Linked DNA regions of Homo sapiens: region 1 is linked to region 2. Evidence: fine-mapped expression QTL. A gene starts in region 2. The other region holds a variant in brackets. All regions are shown on one strand. Distances are between the middles of the regions. Region 1 holds the start of LOC124902994 (a long non-coding RNA gene). Region 2 holds the start of LINC02453 (long intergenic non-protein coding RNA 2453).

What was found. PIP is the estimated chance that this variant, and not a neighbour inherited with it, causes the effect.
Region 1: its variant is the best candidate, but not a certain one, in a credible set for the expression of LINC02453 in whole blood (INTERVAL, PIP 0.80).

What each region holds. Positions count from the first base shown.
Region 1 is chr12:98,466,944-98,483,373 of GRCh38, forward strand. LOC124902994 (a long non-coding RNA gene) reads right to left here and starts at 10,052. Exons shown (of 2, transcript XR_007063420.1): 1 at 9,932-10,052; 2 at 7,607-7,856. RefSeq lists an enhancer at 2,160-2,529. The variant G/A (reference allele first, on the strand shown) is at 11,884.
Region 2 is chr12:98,494,220-98,509,640 of GRCh38, forward strand. LINC02453 (long intergenic non-protein coding RNA 2453) reads right to left here and starts at 9,636. Exons shown (of 4, transcript NR_038383.1): 1 at 9,541-9,636; 2 at 8,364-8,393. It overlaps TRD-GTC1-1 (tRNA-Asp (anticodon GTC) 1-1), which reads left to right and starts at 9,284; the gene lies at 9,284-9,355. It overlaps TRW-CCA4-1 (tRNA-Trp (anticodon CCA) 4-1), which reads left to right and starts at 10,033; the gene lies at 10,033-10,104. RefSeq lists enhancers at 9,374-9,683, 9,694-9,993, 14,150-14,693.

The DNA of each region.
Region 1 (16,430 bases), 27 kb before region 2:
TTGTTGTCATGACAAATAGCCTACACAAAAGAAATAACAACAGTCACACTGATGAGAGGAGACGGGGTAAGTCCTAAAACTGGAAGGTCTCGTATTTGTTGGCAAAAACCAAAGTACAAGATGTTACTAACCTGTACCTTGTTTCCCCCACACAAACATATCTTAAAGAGGCAGCCCAAACTTTCATGTGTGAATGATTATTGGCCTTCAAATAGTATTCGTTACTTTATGACTCAATATCACCCAACACCATGGCCAATATAGAGAGCTTTGTAAAATTTCTCTTGCAGAACTTCCTCAGACTGACTACCCACCTTCATGTGACAATGTGTTCCTTTCCTTTTTAATCACTCCTAGGTTTTCATGATGTGCACTGACCAAATGGACAAGAAGGCTTTGGAGGGTCAAGAATGACCAACTCCAGATGAAACTGTATTGCTTTATCAGAAGCTTATTTTTCTTTTTCTTTGTTTTGTTTTGTTTTTTGGAGATGGAGTTTCATTCTTGTTGCCCAGGCTGGACTGCAATGGTGCAATCTCAGCTCACTGCAACCTCCGCTTCCCGGGTTCAAGTGATTCTCCTGACTCAGCCTCCCGAGTAGCTGGGATTACAGGCATGTGCCACCACACCCAGCTAATTTTGTATTTTTAGTAGAGACGGGGTTTCTCCATGTTGGTCAGGGTGGTCTCGAACTCCTGACCTTAGGTGATCCATCCACCTTGGCCTCCCAAAGTGCTGGGATTACAGGCGTGAGCCACCGCGCCTGGCATTGTTTTGTTTTTTTTTTTTAAACAGGGTCTCATTCTGTCACTCAGGCTGGAGAGAGGCGGCATGATCATGACTCACTGCAGCTTCAACCTTCTAGGCACAAGTGATCCTCCCACCTCAGTCTCCTGAGAAGCTGGCACTACGAGTATCCACCACCATGCCCAGCTAATTTTTTTATTTTGTTTGTAGAAACAGGGGTCTCACTATGTGGCCCAGGCTGGTCTAAAACTCCTGGACTCAAGTAATCCTCCCACCTCCGCCTTCTAAAGTGCTGGCATTATAGGTGTGAGACAACACACCTGGCCAGAAGCTTATATTTTTAACAGGAGACAGACAGCAGTCTGATATGCTTGTAGAGGGAAGGAAAGAGAGATGGTGGAGCGGAGAAAGGCCCACTGGGGGAAAAGCTGGAGAATGAGAAAGAAGCTGTGCTGGCTGGGCGCAGTGGCTCACACCTGTAATCTCAGCACTTTGGGAGGCCGAGGCAGGTGGATTGCTTAAGGCCAGGAGTTTAAGACCAACCTGGCCAAAATGGTGAAACCCCCGTCTCTACTAAAAATACAAAAATCAGCAAGACGTAGTGGTGCACACCTGTAGTCCCAGCTACTTGGGAGGCTGAGGCATGAGAGTTATTTGAACCTGGGAGGCAGAGGTTGCAGTGAGCCAAGATCATGCCACTGCACTCCAGCTGGACTCCAGCTCTAAAAAGAAAAAAGAAAAAAGAAAAAAAGAAGGAAGCTGTGCTACGGTTATTTATTCTGTCCCTCTTTCAGAAATTCAAAGTGAGGCCGGGTGCGGTAGCTCACACCTGTCATCCCAGCACTTTGGGAGGCCGAGGCAGGCAGATAGCTTGAGGTCAGGAGTTCGAGACCAGCCTGGCCAACATGGTGAAACCCCATGAAATTCCATCTCTACTAAAAATACAAAAATTAGCCAGGTGTGGCGGCATACACCTGTAATTCCAGCTACTCGGGTGGCTGAGGCAGGAAGTATCCCTTGAACCTGGGAGGAGGAGGTTGCAGTGAGCCGAAATCATGCCACTGCACTCCAGCCTGGGTGACAAAGTGAGACTCTGTCAAAAAAAAAAAGAAAGAAAGAAAGAAAGAAAGAAAGAAAGAGAGAGAGAGAGAGAGAGAGAGAGAAAGAAAGAAAGAAAGAAAGAAAGAAAGAAAGAAAGAAAGAAAAGAAAGAGAAAGAGAGAGAAAGATTCAAAGTGAGAGTCAGAGTACTAAAAACTGTATAGAATGACTGAGAGAAAGAAATCTATTTAACTTGCTTTAACGTATCCTTTCTAATACTGACTGACTGCAAAGCCCTTCTTCATATAAAAACTTTTAACATCCCAATTCTACAGAATGAGTTTTGGGGAATGTGGTAGCCAGCCTCCAAGATGACCCCCAGTGATTCTCACAGCCTAGGATTCATATCCTTGTGTGACCCCTCCCGCATTTAAGAGGGCTGACCTGTGTAATGAAAAGAATATTGCAGAAATGAGACAGTGTGATTTTTAAGGCTAGGCCATTAAAGATGTTGTGGCTTTCACCTTGCACTCTCTTGGCTTGTTCACCCTGAGAGAAGGCAGCCACCGTGTCATGAGGACACTCAAGCTGCCTGTGGAAAGACCCACATAGGGAGGAACTGAGTGAGCTCACTCTTGTGTGCCATCTTAGAACTGCATCCACCAGCCCTGGTCAAGCCTTCAGATGACTGCAGACCCAGTCAACACCTTGACTGCAATCTCATGAAAGACCCTGAGACAGACCCACCCAGCTAAGTCAGTCCTAAATTTCAAACCACAGAGACTATGTGAAATCACAAATATTTATTGTTGTTTTAAGCCACTAAGTTTGGAGGTAATTAATTATGCAGCAACAGATAACTAGTACAGGACTATTAACCTAAAGTACTTGATGTCAATCATTTTGGTTTGTCATTAAATCATCATACAGCTTTAGTATGGCATATGGTTTTACACTATTCTACTTCTCTAGGTACACTTCATTGATGTAGGGATGGACTCATATATTTTATTTTTTTTTATTTTTTTTTTGAGACGAAGTCTTGCTCTTGTCCCCTAGGCTGGAGTGCAATGGCATGATTTCGGCTCACTGCAACCTCTGCCTCCTGGGTTCAAGCAATTCTCCTGCCTCAGCACCCTGAGTAGCTGGGATTACAGGCGCCTGCCACCATGCTCAGTTAATTTTTGTATTTTTAGTAGAGACAGGGTTTTACCATGTTGGCCAGGCTGGTCTAGAACTCTTGACCTCAGGTGATCCACACACCTCGGCCTCCCAAAGTGCTGGGATTACAGGCATGAGCCACCGCGCCCGGCTGGATGGACTCCTATCTAAAGCCAATCAATCTTTGTCATTCCCTAGGATTTTTGTAACTGAAGCTGAACAAAGATTTATTTATTCTCTGTTGGTGAGGCCAGGAGATGGTGAGACTCAGGAACTGCTAGTGGCCACATTTCTTGCTATGTAAAGAAAGCTTTTCTAAGAGAAAGAAGTTAACAACACAGAGAGAGAAACAGAATTGAGAGACTGAGAAAAGAAGACCTAGCAGCACTCAAATCACCTGTTCCAATGACCTTGATACCACCTGCCACTCATCCTTCTCAGTGTGAGCCTTCCAGTAAGTCCCCTTCTTTTTGCCTAAGTTGGTTTAAGTTGGGGTTCTAGAGGGTGGGGGTGGGAGGAGGGAGAGCATCAGGAAGAATAGCTAATGGATGCTGGGGCTTAATACCTAGGTGATGTGCTGATCTGTGCAGCAAACTACCGTGGCAGACATTTACCTATGTAACAAGCGTGCACATCCTGCACATGTACCCCTGAACTTAAAAGTTGGAAGAAAAACAAAACTTGCAACAACCCCTAAAAAATAATAAGCTGGGTTTCTAAACCTTTCCTCCAAATGGGTCTTGACTGATGTATTCTCACACAACTCTATGCTTCCCCTAGCACAGCACTGATGACTGAGCTGTAATTGCTGGGTGCTTGTCTACCTGTCTACCTCTCTGTCCAGAAGACAGTGGCTTTCAGGTTCATGCATTCTGCCCATCGCTGGGGCACTCAACTGAGAGGGAAGGAAGTGGGGATGCACTCAATACACACAGGTAGGATTGCGACAACCATGTGTGTACTTCATAACCCTGAGCCCTGAACCACAGATGATTTACTCGAGCTGGGCCACAGTCTCCCTGTAGCAATTTGGGACTGAGTCATACAAAGATTGGACACTGAAACTCCTTCACACAAATAATAGCACTCTTCAGAGGATGTTATTAGCCTCTGGCTAGTAAGGGGCCCCAAGCTGTCTTCTGCGAATTCTCTAAGAACCTCTAATATTCCTCCAACAAGCTTGCAAGGTCATTTCTGCTTCCTAAAGCCAAAAGAAACTGAACTAATACACACCCCAAAATATTGTAGTTTCTGTGTGAGCAGGAACAACGTGTTCCTCATTATAGCTCCAAGGCCAGCACGGTCCCTAATCAGAACTCACTGAACACCTGATGAATGCCTGCAGCTCACTGCACTGAGTGGGAGATGCTCCTCCCACTTAGATAGGGATTTTTTTTTTTTTTAACTCTCTTGCCTTCAAGGTCCTGCGCACATCTGCCCTGGCCTTGGTCTCCCTGTGTTGTCAGCTACAGTGGCCAGTGTGTCCTCTGTAGGGTACATCACATCCCTGCTCAAGAATGCATGTTAGAGACTAGAAGTACCAGGCCTCTCATCACCTAAGAAACTTTACCCTTGACTACCTGCCCAGGGTCATCAGGCCTATCATACTGGTTTCCCTATACATCTTGTGTGTGCTGAACTAGGGCCGTAATGATAAGTCCATTTCCATTTCCAGTGTTGGGTTTTTTGTTTGTTTGTTTTTTGTTTTTGAGACAGTCTCGCTCTGTTGCCCAGGCTGGAGTGCAGTGGCATGATCTCGGCTCACTGCAACCTCCACCTCCCAGGTTCTAGCGATTCTCCTGCTTCAGCCTCCTGAGTAGCTGGAACTACAGGCACACACCACCACGCCCAGCTAATTTTTGTAGTTTTAGTAGAGACGGGGTTTCACCATGTTGGCCAGGATGGTCTCTATCTCTTGACCTTGTGATCCTCCCACCTCGGCCTCCCAAAGTGCTGGGATTACAGGCGTGAGCCACACGCCCGGCCAAGTGTTGGTTTTAAACTGGCCATGTTTCTGGGATTTTCCGACTGGCAGAGGCCACTACCTACTACTGAACTATATAGAACTTAGGAGTTTCTTGGGTTTTTCCAGTTTATAAGATGCAGGCAAAACTTGAAGGGAGGCAGGGGTTGCGGAGGGGAAGATGACCAACATCACAGGAAACATAAAAACATCATTATGATCATTATGTTTTCCTGAAACCCCAGAGAGGAGGTGAAGGGTAGGATGCAAGCATCCTTCCAGTCAGCTCTCTCCCAGAGCCCTGCATTTGATCCCATTTGGGGCATGTTCCTCTTCCCTCCCATCACAGCCTTTGCTAAGGCTGACCCGTGAAAGGCTGTACCTAGGCAGGGTGCTCTTGAGGAGAGTAATTCCGCATCAGGCTGGGAGTCAGTGACCAGGCAAGGCTGTGTGACCCAGGCAGGCCCCAGGCCCATCCCCTTCCCCAGTGCTCTCCAACCCACCTCTCCATTCTCTGCTGAGACTCTGACCTACCAAGTATCTAAGATTTATCTCCAACCTCTTCTTTTCTCCTAACTCTTTCATTTAATCTATAAACACACTCATGCTTCCCCTCATCCTTTGAGAGACAGAGAGGGAGAGAGAGAGAAAGAGAGGAGGGGAGAGGGGAAAAGAATATACTAGCCAGGCGCAGTGGCTTACGCCTATAATCCCAGCACTTTAGGAGGCCAAGGTGGGCAGATTGCTTAAGCCCATGAGTTCAAGACCAGCCTGGGCAACACGACAAAGCCCTGTCTCTACCAAAAATGTAAAAAAAAAATGAGCCTGGCATGGTGGTACGCACTAGTGGTCCCAGCTACTCAGGAGACTGAAGTGAGAGGATAGCTTGAGCCTCAAAGGTGAGATTATGGTGAGCCAAGATGGCACCACTGCATTCCTCAGCCTGGGTGACAGAGCGAGACCTGTGTCAAAAAAAAAAAAGAAAGCAAAAAGAAATGCTAGGTCAAATAGTGTTCCCCAATAATTCATGTCTACCTGGAACCTCAGAATGTGACCACATTTGGAAAGAGGGTCTTTGCTGATATAATTAAATTAAGATGAGGTCTTGGTGGGGCGCAGTGGCTCACACCTGTAATCCCAGCACTTTGGGATGCCAGGGTGGGCGGATCACCAGAGGTCAGGAGTTTGAGACCAGCCTGGCCAACATGGTGAAACCCCCATCTCTACTAAAATTACAAAAATTAGCCAGGCGTTGCAGCATATGCCTGTAATCCCAGCTACTTGGGAGGCTGAGGCAGGAGAATCACTTGAACCCAGGAGGCGGAGGTTGCAGTGAGCCGAGATCATGCCACTGCACGCCAGCCTGAGTGACAGAGACTCCATCTCAAAAAAAAAAAAAAAAAGATGAGATCCTATTAGATTAGGATGAGTCCTCATCTAATGACTGGTGTCCTTATAAGAGAAAACAGAGACCCAGAAGAGACACACAGGAAGAACACCCTGTGATGATGGAGGCAGAGATTGGAGGGATGTGGCTACAAGCCAAGGAACACCAACAATTGCCAGCAACCACCAGAAACTAGGAAGAGGCAAGGAAGGGTACTCCCGTAGGGCCTTCAGAGGGAGCACAGCCATATTGACACTCTGATTTCAGATAGCCTCCAGAACAATGTGAACAGAAACAAAAACATTTGTGTTGTTTTCAAGGCACCAGTTTGTGGTAATTTGTTACGGTAGCCCTAAGAAATGAATATACTTTCCATTTTGTTATTTTCTTTCTGCTCATCTGAATTTCCTAATTTTTCTACATTGAACATGGATTATTCGGATAACAAAAGCTTAAAAATTCCAAGCTCTTCCTTGATTCTGCATCCCCTTGCTCCTTCCCTGGATGGTCCAGCTTCCCTCGCAGGCTGAGTGTAGTCAATGTCTTACTTGCTCTCCTCCCAAACAGGCCTCTGCTCGGTGCAGTCTGGCTTCTACCCCCACGACCCCAAGAACCTGCTCCACCAAACATTGCCACTGGCCTCCATACTACTAAATCTCCCAATGTGTAACCCTTCTTACTGACCATCTCTACCACGTTTGTCAAATTCTCTTGCCTCCTTAAAAAGCTCTCCTCCTAATGATGCACACCATGGAGTATTCACAGCAATTAAAAACTGTGAGTTGGGGCTAGGCGCGGTGGCTCACACCTGTAATCCCAGCATTTTGGGAGGCCGAGGTGGGTGGATTTCTTGAGCCAGGACTTCAAGACCAGCCTGAGCAACATGGTGAAACACATCTCTACAGAAAAATTAAAAAATTAGCCAGGCATGGTGGTAAGTGCCTATAATCCCAGCTACCCGAGAGGCTGAGGTAGGAGAATCGCTTGAGCCAGGGAAGTGGAGGCTTCAGGTGGATACTCCAGCCTGGGCAACAGATTGAGACCCTGTCTCAAAAAAAAAAAAAAAAACAAAAAAAAAAGGAAAGAAAAAAAATAGAAGGAAAGAAAAAGAAACCTCAATGAAATTTTCCAACAGGGACCTACACTATAAATACAGACACTAGGCAATTGTCTTATTCCACTTTAGGTTCCCAATAAGGCTACACACTTAAGAACTGCAGGAATATTTAAAATAATTGAATTATTTCAATCTCAAACCATTTCATTTTATAGTATCAAAGCCATAGAACTCTATGTAAAATCAGTAGATTTATTCAGAACACTTTATTATTTCAACAAGAAAAACTGAAAGATTGTGTTTTTACATTTCCAGGAATTTGAAGTGGGAAAAATCTTAAACTTTAAGGACATTGTTTTAATATGATTTCTTGCAATTGATATTTATAATAATAAATTTTTTTCACCTTCCTCATTATTAAAACTTTAGAAACAATGAACATAAACCTTTAGAAATCAAAATGTTATTAAGGTTTTGTTTACACGAGCAGGTCTTGAGTTTCTAGAAAAAAAAAACAGAAAACAAAAAAAAAACCTGAATGAACAAATCAACAGGTCTATTCAAGAAAAACACATCACCTTTTTTTCTATCTAAAAAGTTCATTCCTAGATTATCTCCGTGGCTTAAATCCTGATATTATACAGATTTCAGCAGCTTGTAAGTTTCCTCTGATCCTCCCTTTATATAAGCTTTCCTATGATTTCCCATCAAGTTTTTCAATTTGTTTTAAAACCACAGACACACACACACACACACACACACACACACACACACACACACACACACACACACACACACACAATTGCACATCCTCCTCTCCCAGGGCTCTCCTAATAATCTGATTTTCTGATTTATTTTTCTTGTTCTTTTTTTTTTTTTTTTTTTTGAGCCAGAGTCTGGCTCTGTCACCCAGGCTGAAGTGCAGTGGTGCACTCTTGGCTGACTGCAGCCTCTGCCTCCCAGGCTCAAGTGATCCTCACACGTCAGCCTCCCAAGTCGCTGGGACTCCAGGCACATGCCACCAAGCCCAGCTAATATTTGTAGTTTTTGTAGAGACGGGGTTTAACCACATTGCCCAGGCTGAAATCTGATTTATTTTCAAGGAGATTGGCACCTCTCAGGGAATCTTCATTTTCTCTCTGTGCTTCATTGTCCAGGAATGCCAAGCATTCTCTCTCGTAGATTACACTAGACAGGCCTGTCTTCCTGGCAGCAACAGCACGCTCCAGGCTGAAGCAACTGCAGAAACTGCGAAGAAAAACAGCACCCCCATCTCCCCTCCCTCAGGGACTATATGAGACTTAACTAAATTTGTAATCTGACTAGGATCCAAATTTTTACCCTAGAGCAAACCAACAGCTCCAGGCCAAGAGCCTAAGATTCTTCTGTCCTAGGAATGACCCACTAAGTGAGTTAAAACCTACCAATCTAAGCTAACCTAAACTAGGAGCTGGCCCTAAACAGCATTTACTCTTCCTCCAATGACTTCATCTCTTCTGATAAAATTAATCAGAGGTTCAACTGAGTTATAACTCTACTCTTTTAAATATGCTTCTTAAATTTCCCATTGGCAATAATACACTAATGATTAATTGAATGCTATTGTATTATAGCAATTAGATTTATATCCTGGGATTATTTGATATTAAAAAATATTGATCAATCCTGATTATGTGGATTGAAAAATTAATCCTATAAGTAAACAGCATATAAATAGTATATAACATAATATATACATATATATAAATAATATATGTCCTTATAGTATAAAAGTTAGAAATACAGACAAAAAGAAATGGGGGACAGTCCCATATTTTCTTATAATCCAGAATGTACATTTGTAGCATTCCTAGGCATATGTAGCAAGCTGATATATAAAATGTTAACTAGGCCACGTACAGTGGCTTACGCCTGTAATCCCAGCACTTTGGGAGGCTGAGGCAGGCAGATCACCTGAGGTCAGGAGTTTGAGACCGGACTGGCCAACATGGCGAAACCTCGTCTCTACTAAAAATACAAAAATTAGCCAGGCATGGTGGTTTGTGCCTGTAATTCCAGCTACTCAGGAGATTGAGGCAGGAGAGTCGCTTGAACCTGGGAGGCAGAGGTTGCAGTGAGCCAAGATTACACCATTGCACTCCAGCCTGGGTGACAACAGCGAAATTCCATCTCAAAAAAAAAAAAAAATTAACTGCTTTGGTTTCTAAGACTATGGTTGCCTTACCCCTCACCAGCTCCCCCCACTTCCCCACCCCAGAGAAGAAACTATTCTAAAGTGTTAGGACTTTCAGTGACTAAGAAACCACTTAAGTCAATTGTGATTATCTGGAAGCAACTAAGTGTCATTTTCTGTATCAGAATGAATGGGCAGGAGATGGACTCTGGACGTAGAAATATGGGGAAAGAAATCACAAATTGAGGCCGGGTGCAGTGGCTCACACCTGTAATCCCAGCACTTTGGGAGGCCAAGGCGGGTGGATCACTTGAAGTCAAGAGTTCGACACCAATCTGGCCAACACGATGAAACCCTGTCTCTACTAAAAATACAAAAATTAGCCAAGCGTGGTGGTGCGCACCTGTAATCCCAGCTACTCAGGAGGCTGATGCAGGAGAATTGCTTGAACCAGGAGGCAGAGGTTGCAGTGAGCCGAGATCATGCCATTGCACTCCAGCCTGGGTGACAGAGCGAGACTTTGTCTCAAAAAAAAAAGAAAGAAAGAGAAAGAGAGAAAGGAAAGAAAGGAAAATAAATCACAAATTGAGTTTTAGAAAATAATTAAGTTACATTTCTAGCACACTGATATGGTTTGGCTCTGTGTTCCCACCCAAATCTCATGTCAAATTGTAATCCCCACATGTCAGGGGAGGGACCTGGTGGGAGGTGATTGGATCATGGGATTGGTTTCCCCCGTGCTGTTCTCATGATAGTGAGTGAGTTCTCACGAGATCTGATGGTTTTAAAAGTGTTTGGCAGTTTCCCACTTGCTCTCTCTCTCTCCTGCTGCTATGTAAGACGTGCCTTACTTCCCCTTTGCCTTCCACCATGAATGTAAGTTTCCTGAGGCCTCCCTAGCCATGCAGAACTGTGAGTCAACTAAACCTCTTTCCTTTTTAAATTACCCAGGCTCAGGTAGTTCTTTATAGCAGTGTGAAAATGGACTAACACACCCATTTTTTGTCCTTGACACATCATACCCACTACCCACGTGCACACACACAAGCATGCACACACATACACATATGACTTTGCATATTTGTAAGCAAAAATGGAATCATACCATACGTGCTGTTCTATAACCTGCCTTTCTCATGTAATAACATACCAAGCTTTCAATGCCAGGCTGAAATAGGCTCAATCACCCTCACCCCATCAGGTTATGGGAGATTGCATTTTCCAAAGAAGCCTCAACAATATCTTCTATCCCATACATTCTTCGGCAATGTGACCTTGTCACTCTCCTCTCAAGAAGTGGAGTCTAATTCACCTACCCTCAAATTTGGTTTGGTTTTAGTGACTCCCTTATACCAATAGATGGTGATAAAAGTGACTACATTGTGATTTCTTTTTCTTTTTTTCTTAGAGACAGGGTCTCACTCTGTTGCCCAGGCTGGAGTGCAACGGTGCAATCATAGCTCACTGCAGACTCGAACTCCTGAGCTCAAGAGATCCTCCTGTTTCGGCATCCCAAAGTGCTAGGATTACAGGCATGAGACACTGCATGCAGCCAAGAACATATGTTGACCTAAAACTGGCATTCTGTGATTGTAATGGAAAACAGATAAAGCAGGAGGAAGATGTAGGAAGATGGTGAGTATGAGAGAGGCATTTATAAATTATCAGAATATTAGTACTAATCCTTCTTGGCTTTTTTAAACCAGAAAAGGGAGCTCTGAATTTAATTCCCAAACTGTAATTTCTGGGACAAAAACTACCTAATGTACTATAATGGTTACATTTTATATCATCAGCTTTGATTGTCCTACATAAACACCAGTAACAATACCAATAAGAAGATCAATAATAATAGTAATATAAGTTTGTAATCAGTGACTTATTCACCATACGCCAAGCACTAGGTTAAGTGCTTTATGCTTTATCTCATTTAATTTTTTTTTTTTTACACGGGGTCTCTATCACCCAGGCTAGAGTGCGGTGGCACAACCATTCCTCACTGAAGCTTCGAACTCATGGCCTCAAGTGATCCTCCTGCCTCAGCCTCCCAAGTAACTGGGACTACAGGTGCATGCCACCACACCCAGCTAATTTTTTTATTTTTTGTAGATACATGGTCACACCATGTTGCTCAGACTGGTCTTAAACTCCTGGACTCAACGGATCCACCTGCCTTGATCTCCCAAAGTGCTGAGATTACAGATGTGAGCCACCGTGCCTGGCCTATCTCATTTAATCTTAACAGCACCCCTGTGATGTAGCCACTATTATCATACATATTTTACAAATGATGAAACAGGCTTACGAAGGTAGAGAAGTTACCCAGAATGACTCAGGTGGGAAGCTATGGGGCTG[G/A]ACTTGAACTAAGGTATACCTGACTCCATGCTCTTAAGCCTGTTTGTTACTCAATTTGACATGTGTTCTATTCACAGATGCTGTATTAGTCTGTTCCATTCTCACATTGCTATAAAGAACTACCTGATCACCCACTACCCACACGCACTTTGGGAGGCCAAGGTGGGAGGATCGCTTGAGCCCAGGAGTTCAAGACCAGCCTGGGCAACATAGCGCAACCCCATCTCTACAAAAAATACAAAAATTAGCAGGGCATGATGATGCATGCCTGTAGTCCCAATTACTCAGGAGGCTGAGGCAAGATGATCGCGTGAGCCCTGGAGGTAGAGGCTGTAGTGTGCCAAGATCTCATCACTGCACTCCAGCCTGGGCGACAGAGTGAGACCCTATCTCAAAAAAAAAAAAGAACTGAGACTGGGTAATTTATGAAGAAAGAGGTTTAATTGACTCATAGTTCCACAGGCTGTATGGAAGCATGACTAGACCTCAGGAAACTTACAATCACGGCAGGTGAAGGGGAAGGAAGCACATCTTACTATGGCAGAGGAGAGAGAGAGAGAAAAGGGGGAAGTGCTACACACTTTTAAACCATCAAATCTTGTGAGAACTCACCCACTATGATGAGAATAGCAAGGGGGGAAACTGCCCCCATGATCCAATCAGCTCCCAACAGGTCCCTCCCCCAACATTGGGAATTACAATTCAAGATGAGATTTGGGTGAGGGCATAGAGCCAAATCATATCAGCATCTTTTGCTCAGAATTCCCATGTCTGGGGAATTCTCCACATTATAAGTCTCACCATCAAAGGTGGAAATCAGAAACTGGACTTCTCAGCCCTTCTTGCAGCTGGCATGCTGACTTGTGGCACAAGCCTTACTACCCAGATACACCCATATGAAGATTCAATTTGCAGAAGAACAGTATGAGAAAACAGGCAGTGCACAGAACCCATGCTTCCAGGGAGCGCTCCAGTGGAGGTGCCATTCCCATGAAGGTCTTCACAGCAGACAGCAGTGGAGGGGAGGGTGTTCTAACAGGGTCTTCAGTGACAGACACTGTAATGAAATCTTTGCTGTATCCACCAAGTCATTTGTTTCTGACTGTCAAGCTGCCAAGCCTAATTCTGGCCCTCCCAGAGTTTCTGTGAGCTTTAAGTTAGACCTCAATAAATTGTATTTCTCTCTTTTTTTTTTTTTTTTTTTTTTGATGTGGAGTCTCACTCTGTCACCCAGGCTGGAGTCCAGTGGCGCGATCTCGGCTCACTGCAAGCTCCTCCTCCTGGGTTCAAGCAACTCTCCTGCCTCAGCCTCCCGAGTAGCTGGGACTACAGGCACGCACCACCACGCCTGGCTAATTTTTTGTATTTTTAGTAGAGATGGGATTTCACCGTGTTAGCCAGGATGGCCTTGATCTCCTGACCTCCTGATCCGCCCACCTCAGCCTCTCAAAGTGCTGGGATTACAGGCGTGAGTCACTGCACCCGGCCTATTTCTGCTTTAACTAGCCAAAGTTTTGTTACATGGGACTAATAACCTGACTGGCACAATCTCTTCAAAACTCAGGAACTAATATTTCAAGCAGAAGTACAGAGATCTGTTTGTTCTGTTTTTCACAAGCTACAATCAATTTCATTATTAATGATTTGTTTTAAATGCACACACTTTTTCTAAGTGGGTGAGTCTTCTAATAATTCATCAAAAGTAGCAGGACTAGCTAAACTCGTCAGCTACATAGAGAGGTCTGCTGACTTTTCCCCCAACTGAGAAGCATTTCTTTCATGAGTAGAAATCCCAAAACACTTCAAATATACATTTTACCCTTTGGATATATTTTCTTTCTTTGCTTCCTTTGCTATTAATATTAATGTAATATATCTGGTTCTAACTGTGAATTTAATCAAATTCTTATTCTTTTGTCTTCACTTTATTCCTAAGGCCAAACTCTGAAACTTTTGCTAATTCCTGTCAGATATTTCATTCTCATAAAATGTCATCCTCGTCATCTCTCCTACTGATGGATTAAATGACATTACATAATTGTGAGGCATTTAGAACACTTTTTAAAATCTTATTTTTCCTACTGGTTGTCCACTGATCAACAGTCTGCCATGTTACATGCGGTATCCTTACATGAGGAACATGGCAGACAGAGTTGGTTGCCTTCTTGACAGCCATTTCCCATTATTTCTTGCTCAAAGAGCTTCAACTTGTGCAGGCATAGGCAGAAATATGCTCTTCCCCCAGCCCCAGCTAATTAATCCTGATGGTTTCCCTTTCCTTTTGCTGTGATTTAGGGTAGGCATCAGGTAGGTATATAAATTTGCCCAATCACTCTGGTCTAACTTTAAAACAATTTATGGTCCTCATAAAATAAGACGAATGCATGAAGAAGAGCGTCTGTACTCTCTTTTTCCTAATTTAGACATCATGCACGGATGTGATGTTTGCAGTTGCAGCAGGCATTTTGTAACCATGAAGAATTAAAAAATAAAAATAAAAAATAAAAATATAATGCCAGGCGCAGTGGCTCACAGCTGTAATCCCAGCACTTTGGGAGGCCGAGGCGGGCAGATCACGAGGTCAGAAGTTTGAGACCAGCCTGGCCACCATGGTGAAACCGCGTCTCTACTAAAAATACAAAAATTAGCCAGGCGTGGTGGCATGCACCTATAAGCCCAGCTACTGAGGGGGCTGAGGTGGAAGAATCACTTGAACCCGGGAGGCGGAGGTTGCAGAGAGCCGAGATCGCACCACTGCACTCCAGCCTGGGCAACAGAGTGAGACTCTATCTCAAAAAAAAATAAAATAAAATAAAACTAAGTGTTGAGGATGTGATGGTCAGGAGAGCAGCCAGTAGAAGTCAGTGATTCACATAACTTCACCTGCAAGCCATGGAAAAATCTCAGCAATCTAAGGCAAGACACTGCCTTCAATCCCAGCTGCTGACAGCACCAAAACAGGAAACTCTCAAGATTTTGCCTTCAGCCCATGTGTCTGCCTTCAACTGCCTCTGTTGAATAATGGTTTTTCTTTTCTGCTTTCCTTCTCACACAAGTGCCTCTCATTGGCAAACTCCAACTTGGAATCAAATGAAGGAGGGGATTCTGTCACATGTAACTACAGGTTTCTCTTCTTTAATGCAGAGCGGACTCTAGAAGGGATAATGGAGAGGTATAGCTGGACAACAGACAATCCAGCACAATGAAAGTGAAATGATGCCTTCAAAATTTTGAGGGCTAATAACTTCCAACTAGAATTATATTCTCAGCTAAGCTATCAATCAAGTATAAACATAAAATTGAATCCAGGCATGGTGGCTCACACCTGTCATCCTAGCTGCTTGGGAGGCTGCGGCAGGAGGATCCCTTGAGCCTAGGAGCTCAAGGTTACCATAAACTATGATCACATCACTGCATCCCATCCTGGGTGACAGAGCAAGACCCTATCTCTAAAAATAAAAATATAAAGGTTTTTTTTGGCTGGGCACAGTGGCCCACACCTGTAATCCCAGCACTTTGGGAGGCCAAGGTGGGCAGATTGCCTGAGGTCAGGAGTTCAAAACCAGCCTGGCCAACATGGCGAAACCCAGTCTCTACTAAAAATACAAAAAAAATTAGCCAGGCGTGGTGGTGGGTGACTGTAATCCCAATTACTTGGGAGGCTGAGGCAGGAGAATCACTTGAACCCAGGAGGTGGAGGTTGCAGTGAGCCAAGATCGCACCACTGCATTCCAGCCAGGTGGCAGAGTGAGACTCCGTCTCAAAAAAAAAAAAAAACAGAAAAAGAAAAAAAAAAGTTTTTTAGACATAAAAGGTCTGAAAAAGTTAACTTCCGTGTACCCATTCTCAAGAAATTTCAAGAAGATTGACTCCACCAGAATAAGACGAAAGCAAGAGAGAGTGTGAATTAAGAGTAAAGAGGAAGAAATGAGATGCAAGAAAGAAGCAATCCAACACGAGAGAAATAAAAAGGGTCCTCAGGAGGATGATAAAAAGAGGTCCTTGAATGACAGCTATGTGTCAGATGCAGAGGACAGTCAATCCAGATGGGAGCAATGTGACACAAGATGCAGACATCACAGGAGCCATCTCGAAGATACCCTTTGCCATTGGACCATCTTTTTGAGGCCTGGTGAATCTGACCTAGATTTTGTCTGTGCTTGGCACATCTTGACTATGTACCAATGGAGTTTCTGCTCTCCTCACCATGACAAGCAGAATTCTAAAATGACCTCCATAATCTCCACCCCCTAGTTATGAGTAGGTTTATGTCACCTTGCATGACACAAAGTTTTGTAGATGTAATTAAGGCGACTAATCAGTTGACTTTAAGACAAAGGATTATCCTGGTAAACCTGACTTAATCACATGAGCCCTTTAAAGGCATTTTAAGAGCATTTTCTCTGGCTGGTAGCAGAAGAGAAAGCCAGAGAGATTCTAAGCACAAGGGAGACTCAACATAAGGGAGACTCATCATAAGGAAGAGTCTCCAATGCTGAGTGGAGGGGGCCACCTGAGAGCAGCCTCTACGAGCTGGCAGCAGTCCC
Region 2 (15,421 bases):
ATTTTGGGAGGCCAAAGCAGGTGGATCACCTGAGGTCAGGAGTTTGAGACCAGCCTGGCCAACATGGTGAAACCCCGTCTCTACTAAAACTACAAAAAATTAGTTGGGCATGGTGGTGGGCACCTGTAATCCCAGCTACTCAAGAGGCTCAGGCAGGAGAATCTCTTGAACCTGGGAGGCAGAAGTTGCAGTGGGCTGAGGTTGTGCCACTGCACTCCAGCCTGGGCACCAAGAGCGGAACTCTGTCTCAAAAATAAAATAAAAGCCAAACTCTTCTGTTCAGCTCATTGAAATACTCATTCTATTTTATGGAATGAGATGTTGCCTGATTTTAGAATCACAAATGGAAGCCAATTAAGATCTTTAAATCTGTTATAACTTTGTCCTTGGACAATGGTTAATATTATATAAGGCACTTGAAGCCTAAGGCATAGCAGGCTCTCCATCAGCATGAGCTATGCCTCCACCATAGCACTTACCAAATTGTATTGTAACTATCAGTTAAAAGTCCACCTCCCTCAAGAAATTTGAGTTCCTTGAGGGCAAGAAGTGAGTCTTACTAATTTTTTGTGCCCAATGCCTATCTCCATGCTTGGCACAAAAGATAAATCAATAAAGATTTATTTTTTTAAATAAGGAGGGAAAGAAAAGACTAAGTGTTAGTCGAGCTGAAGGGAGACAGACTTTTGCCTCTCAGTTTTTTGTTTTTTGCTTTTTTTTTGAGACAGAGCCTCGCTCTGTCGCCCAGGCTGGAGTGCAGTGGCGTGATCTCGGCTTACTGTAACCTACGCCTCCAGGGTCCCAGTTCAAGCAATTCTCCAGTAGCTGGGATTACAAGTACATGCCACCATGCCCAGATAATTTTTGTATTTTTAGTAGAGACAGGGTTTCACCATATTGGCCAACCTGGTCTTGAATTCCTGACCTCGAGGTCCACCCACCTCCTCTCAGTTTTAACTTTAAATTATTATTTAAATAAATTAGAGGCTGGGCCCAGTGGCTCATGCCTATAATCCCAGCACTTTGGGAGGCCAAGGCAGGCAGATGATTTGAGGTCAGGAGTTTGAGACCAGCCTGACCAACATGGTGAAACCCCGTCTCTACTAAAAATACAAAAAACTTAGCCGGTCGTGGTGGTGCACACCTGTAATCCCAACTACTCAGGAGACTGAGGCAGAAGAATCACTTGAACCCAGGAGGTAGAGGATGCAGAGCCGATACGGCGCCAGTGCACTCCAGTTTGGGCAACAGAGTAAGACTCTGTCTCAAAAAATAATAAATAAATAAATAAATAAATAAATAAAGACTGGGGAATAGTGAAGTATGAGCATCCCGAATATCTTCCCCACCCCTCACTTTAATAATTTAAACATGTATCCATCTAATTTGCCTTCCAGGCCCAAATCAAAAACATTCACCTTTCAATTTTAATGTTTATGGACAGTAAGTTCTTGTAATTTCCCATAATCTATTAAACTCAAATTTCCAAAATTTGGGTAGTTTCCAGTTTTTGACTATTATAAATACAGCCATTATAAACATAAGTGTGCAGGGTTTTTTGTGGACATATGTCTTCATTTCTCTCAGGTCAATATCTACGAGCAGTGTTGCTGGATCTTAGGATAAATGTATGTTTGTTTGTTTGTTTGTTTGTTTGGAGACAGTGTCTGGCTCTGTCACCTAGGCTAGAGTGCAATGGCTCAATCTCAGCTCGCTGCAATCTTTGCCTCCCGGGCTTAAGCAATTCTCCCACCTCAGCCTCTTGAGTAGCCCAGACCACAGGCACATGCCACCACACCTGGTAATTTTTGTATTTTTTGTAAAGATGAGGGGGGTCTTACCATATTGCCCAGGCTGGTCTCGAACTCCTGGACTCAAATGATCCTCTTGCCTCAGCTTCCCAAAGTGCTGGGATTGCATGTTCGAGCCACTGTGCCCAGCCTACATCTTAATTATGGTCAAAATTCATAGACTAGTACCCTTAAAAAGAGTAAATTTTACCCTCATAAATTATACCTCAATAAACCCTAAAAATAGTAAATAAGTAAGTGGAGACAGACAGACAGACAGACAGACAGACAGAAATAAGAGGCACTCCCCCAAAAGTTCTCAACACAGCCTGGAAGGCCCTGCATTGTCCTACTCCCATCAGCCTTTTCAGCCTCATCTCCCCATGATGCTGCTCACCCTCTGCTCCTCTCTAGTCACTTCTGCCTTCTTTCACACCCTCTACTCACCACATTTCCTCTGTTCCTACAACCTTAGCACATCCAGTTCCATCTACCTAAGAAGCTCTTTCCTTTGCTCTTCCCCATTATCTTAGTAACTGTCACAGTTGTAATTTTACTTTTTTTGGTTTGTGTGTTTTGGAGACGTAGTCTCGCTCTGACGCCCAGGCTGGAATGCAGTGGCACGATCTCTGCTCACGGCAACCTCCCCCTCCCAGGTTCAAGCAATTCTCCTGCCTCAGCCTCCCAAGTAGCTGGGAGTGCCCACCACCATGCCCCGCTAATTTTTTGTATTTTGGTAGAGACGGGGTTTCACCGTGTTGCCCAGGCTGGTCTCGGATTCCTAAGTTCAGGCAATCCGCCTACCTCGGCCTCCCAAAGTGCTAGGATTACAGGTGTGAGCCACTGCACACGGCCTGTAATTTTACTTTTTTATTTTTGTTATTCTTTTACTAGTGTTATGTGTCTCCTCCACTGAAATAAAAGCTCCTTGAGACCAGGGTCTTTGTTCATCACTGTATCTCCAGAACCTAGTACTGTGTTTTACCTACACAATGAGTGTTCAACCATTATATTCAACTGACTACTTCATGTCTCAACCTTAACATGTCCAAAACTGAAATGTTGATCATCCCCCTGCTCCCACCAGGGTCATTACTCCACATGCAGGGCTGCCATAGTGCACAATTCCAAGGAGTGCCATCCACAGCACAGTCTATGGATGGCATCTTGCCTCTGTTAAAGTGAACTAAATATGGCCAGAGAAGGACTCCGTACTTCCATATTTGAGTCCTTATGGACAACCATAAGCTAACTTAATGGGTAGACAAGATTGAAAACCTAATTTAGAAGTATACGACTCTAACAATAGCTGAGTCTTGGCCAATCACAGCAGCCATACTTCAACCACTCATACACTGCTGAGTGTTCAAACTGTGTTTAAATAAGGCAAACGCCAACCTGTAACCAATCCAGCTGTTTCTGTACTTCACTTCCGATTTCTGTACCTCACTTCCCTTTTTTTGCCTGTAATTTGTTCTGACTACCAGGCATCCCTGGAGTCTCTCTGAATTTGCTGTGATTCTGGGGGCTGCCCGATTCGCGAATAGTTTATTGCTCAGATAAACTACTTTACATTTATTTATTTATTTATTAAGATGGAGTCTTGCTCTGTCGCCCAGGCTGGAGTGCAGTGGCTTGATCTCTGCTCACTGAAACCTCCACCTCTCGGGTTCAAGCGATTCTCCTGCCTCGGCCTCCCAAGTAGCTGGGATTACCGGCACGCGCCACCATGCCCGGCTAATTTTTGTATTTTTAGTAGAGACGGGGTTTCACCATGTTGGCCAGACTGGTCTCAAACTCCTGACCTCAGGTGATCCTCCCACCTCGGCCTCCCAAAGTGCTGGAATTACAGGCGTGAGCCACTGCTCCTGGCCAAATTCCTTTACATTTAATTCAGCTGAAGTTTTTATTTTAACAACTTCTTCCCAGTTATGCCCTTCACATGACTGCCAATATGAATGGTGCCCTCTGGAGTTGTGCATTACTCTTCTCAACCTCAGTGATGGCAACTCCATCCTTCCAGTTGCTCAGGCCAAAAATTCTGGAGGCATCCTTGACTCCTCTTTTTAACTCATATCTCACATTTACTCTACCAAGAAATTCTATTGACTCAACCTTCAAAATACATAGCACTTGGGGCCAGGCACAGTGGCTCAGGCCTGTAATTCTAGCACTTTGGGAGGCCAAGGTAGGAGGACCCCTTGAGCCCAGAAGTTCGAGACCAGCCTGGGCAACATTATGAAACAGTCTACAAAAAACACAAAAATTAGCTGGGCGTGGTGGCATGCACCTGTGGTCTCAGTTACTCAGGAGGCTGAGGTGGGAGGATCTCTTGAGCCCAGGAAGTTGAGGCTGCAGTGAGCCCTGATTGCGCCACTACACTCCAGCCAGGGTGACAGAGTGAGATCCTGTCTCAAAAAAATAAACAAAGTACATCAGCGCCTCTCACCTTCTCCATCACTTTCACTGTAGCCTGAACCACCCACCAACATCTCCCATATGGATTATTGCAATAGACTTCATAGTTCTTGTTTCTGCTCTTGCCCTCCTACAAACTACTCTCAATCCAGTAGCCAAAGATCCTTTTTTTTTCTTGAGACAGTCTCACTCTGTTGCCCAGGCTTAAGTGCAGAGCTATGATCATAGCTCACTGCAGCCTCGAACTCCTGAGCTCGAGTGATCCTCCCACCTCAGCTCCCCAAGTAGCTGTGACTACAGGTGTGAGCCACAACACCCAGTTAATTTTTTTTAATTTTTAGTAGAGATGGGGTCTTGCTATGTTGCCCAGCCAAAGACCCTTTAAAACATAAATCTGACCATATCACTACTCTGTTCAAAACCCTGCAGTTCTCAGGAAGTTAGAGAGGAATGATACTTACCAGAGGCTAGGAAAGGGCAAGGTGAAGGAGATGAAGACAGGTTAGTTAATGGGTATAAACATACAATCTGATAGCAAGAATAAATTCTAGGTCAGGCACGGTGGCTCATGCCTACAATCTCAGTACTTTGGGAGGTGGAGGCGAGTGGATCACCTGAGGTCAGGAGTTAGAGACCAGTCTGGCCAACATGGTGAAACACCGTCTCTACTAAAAATACAAAAATTAGCCAAGTGTGGTGGTGCGTGCCTGTAATCCCAGGTACTAGTGGGGGCTGAGGCTTGAATCCGGGAAGCGGAGATTGCAATGAGCCAAGATCAAGCCACTGCACTGCAGCCTGGGCAACAGAGCGAGACTCTGTCTCAAAAAAAAAAAAAAAGAAAAGAATAAATTCTAGTGTTGAATAGCACAGTAGGGTGACTACAGTTAACAATACTTTATTGTATATTTCAAAATAGCTATAAGAGAGGATTTGAAATATTCCCAGCACAAAGAAATAATAAATGTTGCAGGTGACGGATATGCTGAATGTCCTGATTTAATCATTACACATTGTATGCATGTATTAAAATATCACATGCACTCCATAAATATGTATAATTACTATGTATCAATTTTCTTAATGTTAAAAAAATCCAACAACCCTGAAGTGGGTCCCCGTTTCCCTAATTATAAAAGCCAAAGTCTTTCCAATGACCTCTAAGGCCCTCAGGCCTCCCAGACAGCTGCATGACTACATCTCTTACTTCCTTCAACTATGTTCAAATTATACCTTTGGCCAGGCGCGGTGGCTCATGCCTGTAATCCCAGCACTTTGAGAGACCGAGGTGGGTAGATTACTTGAGGCCAGGAGTTCGATACTAGCCTGGCCAACATGGTGAAACCCCATCTCTACCAAAAATTAGCCGGGTGTGGTGGCACAGCTACTCAGGAGGCTGTGGCACAGCTACTCAGGAGGCTGTGGCACAAGATCGCTTGAACCCGGGAGGCCAAGGTTGCAGTGAGCCAAGTTCTCACCACTGCCCTCCAGCCTGGGTGACAGAGCAAAACTCCCTCTCATGAGGCTTACCTTGACCTATTTAACTTGCTACTCTCCAAACCCCCTTACTCTGCTATTTTTATTTCTGCTCTTATAACTGTCTGACATACTTATGTATGATGTTTGTATCCATTTATCGTATTCATTGTTTATTATCTGTATTTCTTCTGTAGGATAAAAGATCTAGAAGAACAAGATGTATTTATGAGAACCTCCCCATGCATCTAAAAGAATGTCTGGCACGTTGCAGGTTCAATAAGTTAATGAATAACTACAGTGTCTGCCAAGTAATTAAAGATTAGCAAATATTAATATAGGAACAAGGGTGACACATATGTTGATACTAGTTATAAAGTTTTTCTCTCCATAGCATGTACTTATTTGTTAATATACATGTATATGGAACTGTGCAGGTAGGGTGAAAACTGGTTTTTGCAGTCAGAGCTTGGGTGATTCCTGGCCTTTCACCACCTCCTATCTGTGTGATCCTGCAGAAGATTCCCAAATAGGAATAAAAACACTTGTCCCATTGACCTAACAGGTTGTTGAGAAAATAAAATGAATGTGAATCATTTAGCAAGCTGAGATATGCAGCATAGTTCTTTAGGAAGAGCAGGATTTGAAACTTTGAATAACACTCATTGTCATCATGCCATTTATTCCCGAAGAGAGTTCCATGCCCTCTGTACTGCCAGTCAGATTTTAACCTTTATTTTTGCCCAGTGCTGACAGGGAGGAACCTCTGAGCTCCCTCACCCTGTTCAGGTTAATTGCCCTCTCTTTTCCTTTCCATTTTCGGATGATGGACAGCAAGTGCTGCGTTCCCTGCTCCCTGATCTCACTGACTCAGACTGCCTCTTACTTTCACCAGGGATGAAAAAGGAGCAGTAACAACACGTGTGTGAGCACTGGCATAGCTTTACGAGAGCTTCAGTGGAAAGGATGTCTCTTCTAAAGGAAGAGATGAAGCTGCTTTTCCCGAGAGTGCAGAACACGGGGCAAACAGTTGATTCAGGAGAACTGGGTTCACTGCCCCATAGCTCTACGAACTGAGAGACTTGGGGAAGTCCCTTCGATTTTACTAGGAAAAGGACGTCATCATAGCTATCACAGTGCCCTTTGGCCCTGGCAAAAGTTTTTGGAGGATCAAAGTGGAAGGAGGCTCCCACACACTGAGAGTTTGTATTGAGGCTTTCGGTGTAGTTAAGAGTGAAACAGGGGCCGGGCGCGGTGGCTCACGCCTGTAATCCCAGCACTTTGGGAGGCCGAGGCGGGTGAATCACCTGAGGTCAGGAGTTCTAGATCAGCCTGACCAACATGGTGAAACTGTCTCTACTAGAAATACAAAATTAGCTGGCTGTGGTGGCACATGCCTGTAATCCAGCTACTTGGGAGACTGAGGCAGGAGAATCGCTTGAACTCGGGAGGCAGACGTTGCAGTGAGCCAAGATTGTGCCATTGCACTCCAACCTGGGCAACAAGAGCAAAACTGCGTCTCAAAAAAAGAAAAGAGAGAGAGAGTGAAAAAGGGCTGAGCGCGGCCGCTTGAGGCCGAGGCGGGTGGATCACTTGAGGTCAGGAGTTTGAGACCAGCCTGACTAACATGGTGAAACCCCCGACTCTACTAAAAATACAAAAGGGAGTGGTGGCGTGCGCCTGTAGTTCCAGCTACTCGGGAGGCTAAGGCAGAGGAATCGCCCGAACCCAGAAGGCGGAGGTTGCAGTGAGCCGAGAGCGTGCCACTGCACTCCTGCCTGGGCGACAGAGCAAGACTCCGTCTCAAATAATAATAATAATAATGAGAGCAAAAAAGAAAGAAAAGCCAAAACAAGCCTCAGAAACTGCCATTTGTTTAATATCTGCATTAAAAAAATTATCCCTTCCATCAGATGAAAAATACCTTATAATTTATGATGGATAATACATTAATTCGTAGCACACTAGAAACAAGGGATTCCTTAAGACACATATGTGGGGTTTTTGTTGTTGTTGTTGTTGTTGTTGTTATTTTTATTATCTTTAAGGATAATTTGTTGGGTAGGGGTCAGTGAGTTGGGAGTCCTGATTGGTTGGGTCGGAGACGAGACACGTAAGTTTAAGTTCTATAATGAAACGCTTTCAATCATGTCAGTTTATCTGTGCCTATAAACACACTCCTTTAGAGAAAATCAAAAGTTTATAGCCAGGCGCGGTGGCTCACGCCTGTAATCCCAGCACTTTGGGAGGCCGAGGTGGGTGGATCACCTTAGGTCAGGAGTTCGAGACCAGCCTGACCAACGTGGTGAATTACCATCTCTACTAGAAACACAAATTGAACGGGCGTGTTTGTGGGCACCTGTAATCCCAGCTACTCGGGAGGCTGAGACAGGAGAATCGCTTGAACCCGGGGGACGGAGGTGGTAGTGAGCCAAGATCGCACCACTGCACTCCAGCCTGGGCAACAAGAGTGAAACTCCGTCTCAAAAAAAAAAGTTTACATATAAGGCTCTCTTAGTATCCCTGGGAAGAGGGTTCATCCTGTCTATGAACGGGTTTAGGATGACACAAATTATCAAATTATCCGATTAGTGCACTTTCCTAACCCATATGTTTAATCAGTGGCACATCCTGGTTTTGAATTATTTAAACGCATTATTATTTAGCCATTCACATACTTACGTTTGTCACTTCCAGTTAAACTGTAGCCACCTACAGAGAGCGAAACAGAAGTCGGCTGATAAAATTTTGATAAAATTTCATTTGCCCGCAGCTGGTCATTTCATTGGGCGCTTTTGTGTTACAAAAGTGTGTGAATTGGCCGGGCGCGGTGGCTCACGCCTGTAAATCCCAGCACTTTGGGAGGCCGAGGCAGGTGGATCACTAAAGGTCACGAGTTCGAGACCAGTCTGGCCAACATGGTGAACCCTCCCCCCCCCCACACACACACACACACCCCGCGTCTCTAGTAAAATACAAAAATTAGCCAGGCATGGTGGTGCGCGCCTGTAATCCCAGCCACTCGAGAGGCTGAGGCGGGAGAATCACTTGAGCCTTGGAGGTGGAGGTTGTAGTGAGCCCAGATCGCAACACTGCACTCCAGCCTAGGGGACAGAGCGAGACTTCCTCTCAAAAAAAAAAGACTTATGAATTGTTTGAAGAGGCACGAGACCGTGGCAACCCTAACTGTCCCCGACATCTGGCAGCCATATGCTATCCTTGAACTTGAACTTCAGAGTGAAAGTATAAATTTGTAAGGGGAAGGCTCAGCCGCAAGTCACATACCAGTGGTCAGTTAAAAAAAAAAAACTCAGGACGGCAACCTAAATCATTTAGAACGCGTCAAGAGCCTCGGAAAAACTATTTTCACACACTTCTCTAGCACTAACATGGGAAGCGCGTTTCCTTCACATATTCCACACCTTTTATTCTTCCCACCAACATCAAGAATACAAAGCGCCCAGAGAGGACAATAAGCCTAAGCAGCGGCTCCAAGAGACCGGACTTTCGTACTTCCCGGGGGCAGGCGGAAGGTTACGGAGCGCTGGAAGGATCTTACTGCTCCTTGAAGGGCTGTCTGAGAAAATACACAGCCTAACGACTCCTCGTTAGTATAGTGGTTAGTATCCCCGCCTGTCACGCGGGAGACCGGGGTTCAATTCCCCGACGGGGAGGTGTGTAGCTGCACTTTTTTGGCGACAGTTATTATTTTCTGTATCATTCAATGACAGGACACTGCTGTTAAACATAATATGCTAAACCAGCTCCCTTAAGTGCACAACCCTGTCTTCAAAATGGTGACTTTTAACCTTAATGCCCACCATGAAGTGAAAGCCTCCCCTGAGAGAAAATGCCTTACATTGTTTGCAGGAAGGGAGGAAAGGGAAAAAGAAAACGCTCTGAAGGCCTCTGCCCTTGCCTCCAGCCGCCATCTTGCGAAGGCCTGCGCCGGCTTAGTGGCGCCCCGCCAGATTACAACTCGAGGTCGCGAACTCAGCGCGCGGAACCTGTTGGGGGAGGGGAGAGAGGGCGGAGTCTCGCGACTAACGGGGCGGGGGCAGGGCGGGTAAGAACGGAAATCATTTGGTAAAGAAAAGGAAGGGCCAATTTCCTTTGATCCTGGAGACCCGACTAAACGGGAAGCCCCGTTCTCCCGCTTCCGCTGGTTACGTCCCAGCCTTGGTTAGAGGACTAGCAGTCAGGAAAGTTTGGACGCTGAAGGAATCGGTCTCCTGGTCCGACAGATACTGGGTGGAGGGGCAGAGAGTAAATGGAAGAGAAAGACTGGTACCCCTGGAAGAAACGCCATTTACTGGTGTCCTAAGAAACTGCGCGAGCCACAGCCCAGCAGGACCTCGTGGCGCAACGGTAGCGCGTCTGACTCCAGATCAGAAGGCTGCGTGTTCGAATCACGTCGGGGTCAAACTTTTTTTTTTTCCTCCTGTATTTTAAACTACCGACTACTAGAAGCCGAGGTGTATTCCTGCCGCCAATTTTCTTGAATGTTAGAATTAAGTTTTCCTCTTTCAGGTATTATGATACTAATCCTTGGTTTGCAGGAAGATATGATTTACTCTATATCGAAGAGCCTCAAGGCTGATGTTTTTATCATTTGGCCTTTTAAAGTGAGTTTTTTTGTCACTTAACATGCATAATGTGTAAAGAGGTGGACTATTACTGCTGTGCATTAGTGGGTGTATCAGTCCACTAGTCTATCACAGGAAGTGTACAATATACTGTACAAGCTGTTTTTTCCAAACAGTTTTAGGCTGTTTGCCTTTTGAAAGAGAGTACAATAGTGTACAATTTCTAATTTTGAATATTATGCTAATCAAGTGTCTTAGCCCTTACCATGTGCCAACACTGTGAACAACCTCACAATGTGTGACTATTATCCCACTTTTACAAATGTGGCTGTGGCTCACAGGGTTAGTGACCTGCCAAGGGTCACCCAAGATTCTGAACCAGGTGAGGGACTCTGGATCCCTCTTTATAAATACTTTATAATAAAGGTGGAAACAAACAGTTGAAAGAATGTGTGACTGCCAGGCTCAGTGGCTTACACCTGTAATCCTAGCACTTTGGAAGGCCAAAGTGGGTGGATCACGAGGTCAGGAGTTCAAGACCAGCCTGACCAACATGGTGAAACCCCATTTCTACTGAAAATACAAAAATTAGCTGGGCATGGTGGGGTGCACCTGTAATCCCAGCTACTCCGGAGGCTGAGGCAGAAGAATTGATTGAACCCGGGAGGCGGAGGTTGCAGTGAGCCTGGGTGACCAAGCAAGACTCCTTCTGGAGGTGGGTGGCGGGGAGGAATGTGGGAAAAGCTGTTGGACTGGGCGCCTTTTATGTTTTCACCGATTATGCGAGTGATGACTAGTCACCACTTTTGACTATTAATCTCTTTAATAGCAGGAAGCAAAGCTTGCTCGTTCACATTTGCAAGCTCCAGGACTCTTAGTACTAAATAGTGCCCTACACGTAAGTGTCAAATATTTGTTGAACAGAAAATGAATAGCAAGACTATGAGAAATTAATAGTTTTAGATTTTGATGATATGTTTTGTAAAATTCCTGAGGTTTTCTGCTTAGTATTTTGAAAATACCAAACACTAATTTCTTTTGATTCAACCTAATGTAGCAGTATACCTGGAAATTATATTTGCACATGGTGTGGTTTGTTCTTCCCTCTCCTGTTTGGATTAAAATTAGATCATCCATTTCAACGGGTATTTATGGACTGTCAACTCTGATGAGCCTGATACTGTGCTAAGTACTAAGGATGAGGATACACTGAGTAAAAATGGGTTTTTTTGAGCATCAGGAGACAGATATGTTAAGCCACCAAACGCCATAATGTGTTGGGGTAAGTTCATGTTACTTGGTAAGAACCATGAAAGTAACATGAACAGAGTGGTATGGGGGTGCTAAAACAGTGGACAGTAACTCCACATTGGGTTGTATGAGGCTATAACAAGGTGATACAACCTCTCCATCTACATCACAAAAATATGGTTTTGTCCAAATGAGTTAACATGATTGGTCCAAGCTACGATATATGCAGTATATGCAAATGATGCCAGAGGGAAGAAATGGCTTCTGTTATGGGCTGAATTTTTTTTTTTTTTTTTTTTTTGAGATGGAGTCTCACCCTGTCGCCCAAGCTGGAATGCAGTGGCAACCTCCGCCTCCCAGGTTCAAACGATTCAGCCTCCCAAGTAGCTGGGATTACAAGTGCACCCCACTACACCCAGCTATTTTTTTGTTTGTTTGTTTGTTATCTTTAGTAGAGACAAGGTTTCACCATGTTGGCCAGGCTGGTCTTGAACTCCTGACCTCATGATCCACCTGCGTCAGCCTCCCAAAGTGCTGGGATTACAGGCGTGAGCCACCACACCCAGTTTATGGGCTGAATTTCATCTCCCCAACATTCATATGTTGAAGCCCTCACTCCTAGTACCTCAGAATGATCGTAAGACCTGATTAAGTACGCTAGGTGCAGTGGCTCACGCCTGTAATCCCAGCACTTTGGGAGGCCAAGGCAGGTGGATCACAAGATCAGGAGTTGGAGACCAGCCTTGCCAACATGGTGAAACCCTGTCTCTACTGGAAATAGAAAAATTAGCTGGGCGCGGTGGCGGGTGCCTATAATTCCAGCTACTCGGGAGGCTGAGGCAGGAGAATTGCTTGAACCCGGGAGGCAGAGGTTGCAGTGAGCCGAGATCGCACCACTGCACTCTAGCCTAGGTGACAGAGCAAGACTCTCTTTTAAAAAAAAAAAAAAAAAGACATTATTAAGTAAAAATGAGGCCATTAGGGTGGGCCCTAATCCAGTCTGACTGGTGTCATATTTATAAGAGGAAATTTGGACACACAGACACCAAGGATGTGTGCACACAGGGGAAAGGCCATGTGAGGATACAGCAAGAGAGTAGCCATCTACAAGCCAAGGTCTAGGAAGAAGCCAACCCTGCTGGCCTCTTGATCTTAGACTTCTAGCCTCAAGATCTCTGAGAAAATAAATATCTGTTTACTTTTATTATGGTAGCCCTGGCAAACGAATACAGCTTCCGTCAAGAACTACTAGTTCTGCAGAATGGCTGGAGAGGTAAATAGGCGTCAGCATACAGGATCAGTGTGCCATTCCAACTAATTTAGATTTTATTCTGAGGGCAATGCAGAACTATAATTCATGACTAAGACAATCCAGCCAGCTTCACAAAGACTAAAAAATGGCCAAGAACTGTTCCTGGACCACCATCCTGGGAATAAGTTAGAAATGCAAATTTTCAGGCCTCACCTCAGACCTACAGTCTCAGAAAATTGGGTGTGGGGCACAGCAACAAACCTTCCAGCCGTTTTGATGCAAGCTAAAGTTTGAGGACCTCCGGCCTATAAAGCAAGGCAAGACTAGACGTCCTACTTACCCCACAGGTTAAAAGGATCAAATAAGATAAAATACATCAAAATGTTTTTGAAGCTGTTATACATGTCATTATTAATACTGTTATGGCTCTAAAACTGTCACTTCCCAGGTCCCAGATTCTTTCCCAAGGCTGGACATCTGTAGTTTTTTAGAATGCTCCATCTGATGACTTTCTATAACTTTGAAATGACTGCAAATCCAACACTTTTTAACTTAATCTTCTATACTCATGATATAGGGATGATATACGGAAAGAGTTTTATAGGAAAGGTGGAAACAAAGAGCTATCAAGAGCTATGAAGTGTCAGGATTTGAACTGAAACATGGACCTGTCTAGAAAAGACAGCTCTGTGGATTTGTTCTATTTCACTAAGAAATGTCTATTCATGTATTCTTGCAAGAGGACTTATCCACTACTATAGAATGCTCTGAGCATTTATTTCACCTGTTTAATAGCCTTGCTTTCTTTTCTGAGAGTATTTTAGTTACTTAAGTCCTGTGAAAGAAAAATCTCGGTGTTACTGGGGTCCCAATCCAGACCACAAGAGAGGGTTCTTGAACCTCACACAAGAAAGAATTCAAGGCGAGTCCATAAAATGAAAGCAAGTTTATTAGGTAAAGGAATAAAGAATGGCTACTCCATAGGCAGAGCAGCCCAGAGGGCTGCTGATTGCCCATTTTTGTGGTTATTTCTTCATTATATGCTAAACAAGGGGTGGATTATTCATGCCTCCCCTTTTTAGACCATATAGGGTAACCTCCTGACATTGCCATGGCATTTGTAAACTGTCATGGTGCTGGTGGGAGTGTAGCAGTGAGGACAACCAGAGGTCACTCTCATCGCCATCTTGGTTTTGGTGGGTTTTGGCAGGCTACTGCAACCTGTTTCACCAGCAAGGTCTTTATGACCTGTGTCTTTTTTTTTTTTTTTTTTTTTTTTTTTGAGACAGAGTCTCACTCTCGCCCAGGCTGGAGTGCAGTGGTGCAATCTCAGCTCACTGCAACCTCCACCTCCCAGGTTCAAGCAATTCTTCTGCCTCAGCCTCCTGAGTAGCTGGGACTACAGGCACGCGCCACCACGCCCAGCTAATTTTTGTATTTTTAGTAGAGACAGGGTTTCACCATGTTGGTCAGGCTGGTCTCGAACTCCTGACCTCGTGATCCACCTGCCTTGGCCTCCCAAAGTGCTGGGATTACAGGCGTGAGCCACCGTGCCCGGCCTATGACCTGTATCTTCTGCCGACCTCCTATCTCGTCTTGTGACTTAAAATGCCTTAACTGTCTGGGAATGCAGCCCAGTAGGTCTTTTCTTTTTTTTTTTTTTTTTTTTTTGAGACGGAGTTTTGCTCGTTGTCCAGGCTGGACTGCAATGGCGCGATCTTGGCTCACTACAACCTCCGCCTCCCGGGTTCAAGCGATTCTTCTGCCTCAGCCTCCTGAGTAGCTGGGATTACAGGCATGTGCCACCACGCCCAGCTAATTTTGTATTTTTAGTAGAGACAGGGTTTCTCCATGTTGATCAGGCTGGTCTCAAACTCCCGACCTCAGGTGATCCACCCACCTTGGCCTCCCAAAGTGCTGGGATTACAGGCATGGGCCACCGTGCACGGCCTTACCCACCCTTTTTTCAACATGGAGGTGCTGTGATTCAAACCCCTCTAACATCAGGACCCCAAAAATGACTAAGCCAAAGGGAAAGTCAAGCTGGGAACTGCTTAGGGCAAACCTGCCTCCCATTCTACTCCTAAAAAAAAAGATAGCTACTAAGATAAAAAAGCTATATATACCTCCCTCACAATTTGACCACAAAGAAATTCCTTGTGGACAAAGGACAGATAGAGATTTAAAAAGTCATCCCTCTGCTCATATGAGATAAATGCATATCTGATTGCCCTTTTGTTTCCCTAAGCCAGACTAACATAAGTGACTATTCCTGTAAATAGTGTATTCAGTGAAAGGCTAATCAGCAACTCAAAAGAATGCAACCATTGGTCTTTTATCTACCTATGACCTGGAACACCCCGGAGCCCCCCAACCCCCACTTGTATTAATAGCTGTCCCGCCTTTCTGGATGGGACCATTGTACATCTTAAACATATTGATTGATGTCTCATGTCTCCCTAAAATGTATAAAACCAAGCTGTGCCACACAACCTTGGGCACATGTCGTCAGGACCTCCTGAGGCTGTGTCATGGGTGTGTCCTTAACCTTGGCAAAATAAACTTTCTAAATTGATTGAGACCTGTCTCCGATTCTCTTGGTTTACAGAGCGATGTATTCTGGACGAACTAATAAAATTGAGCTTTTGGAC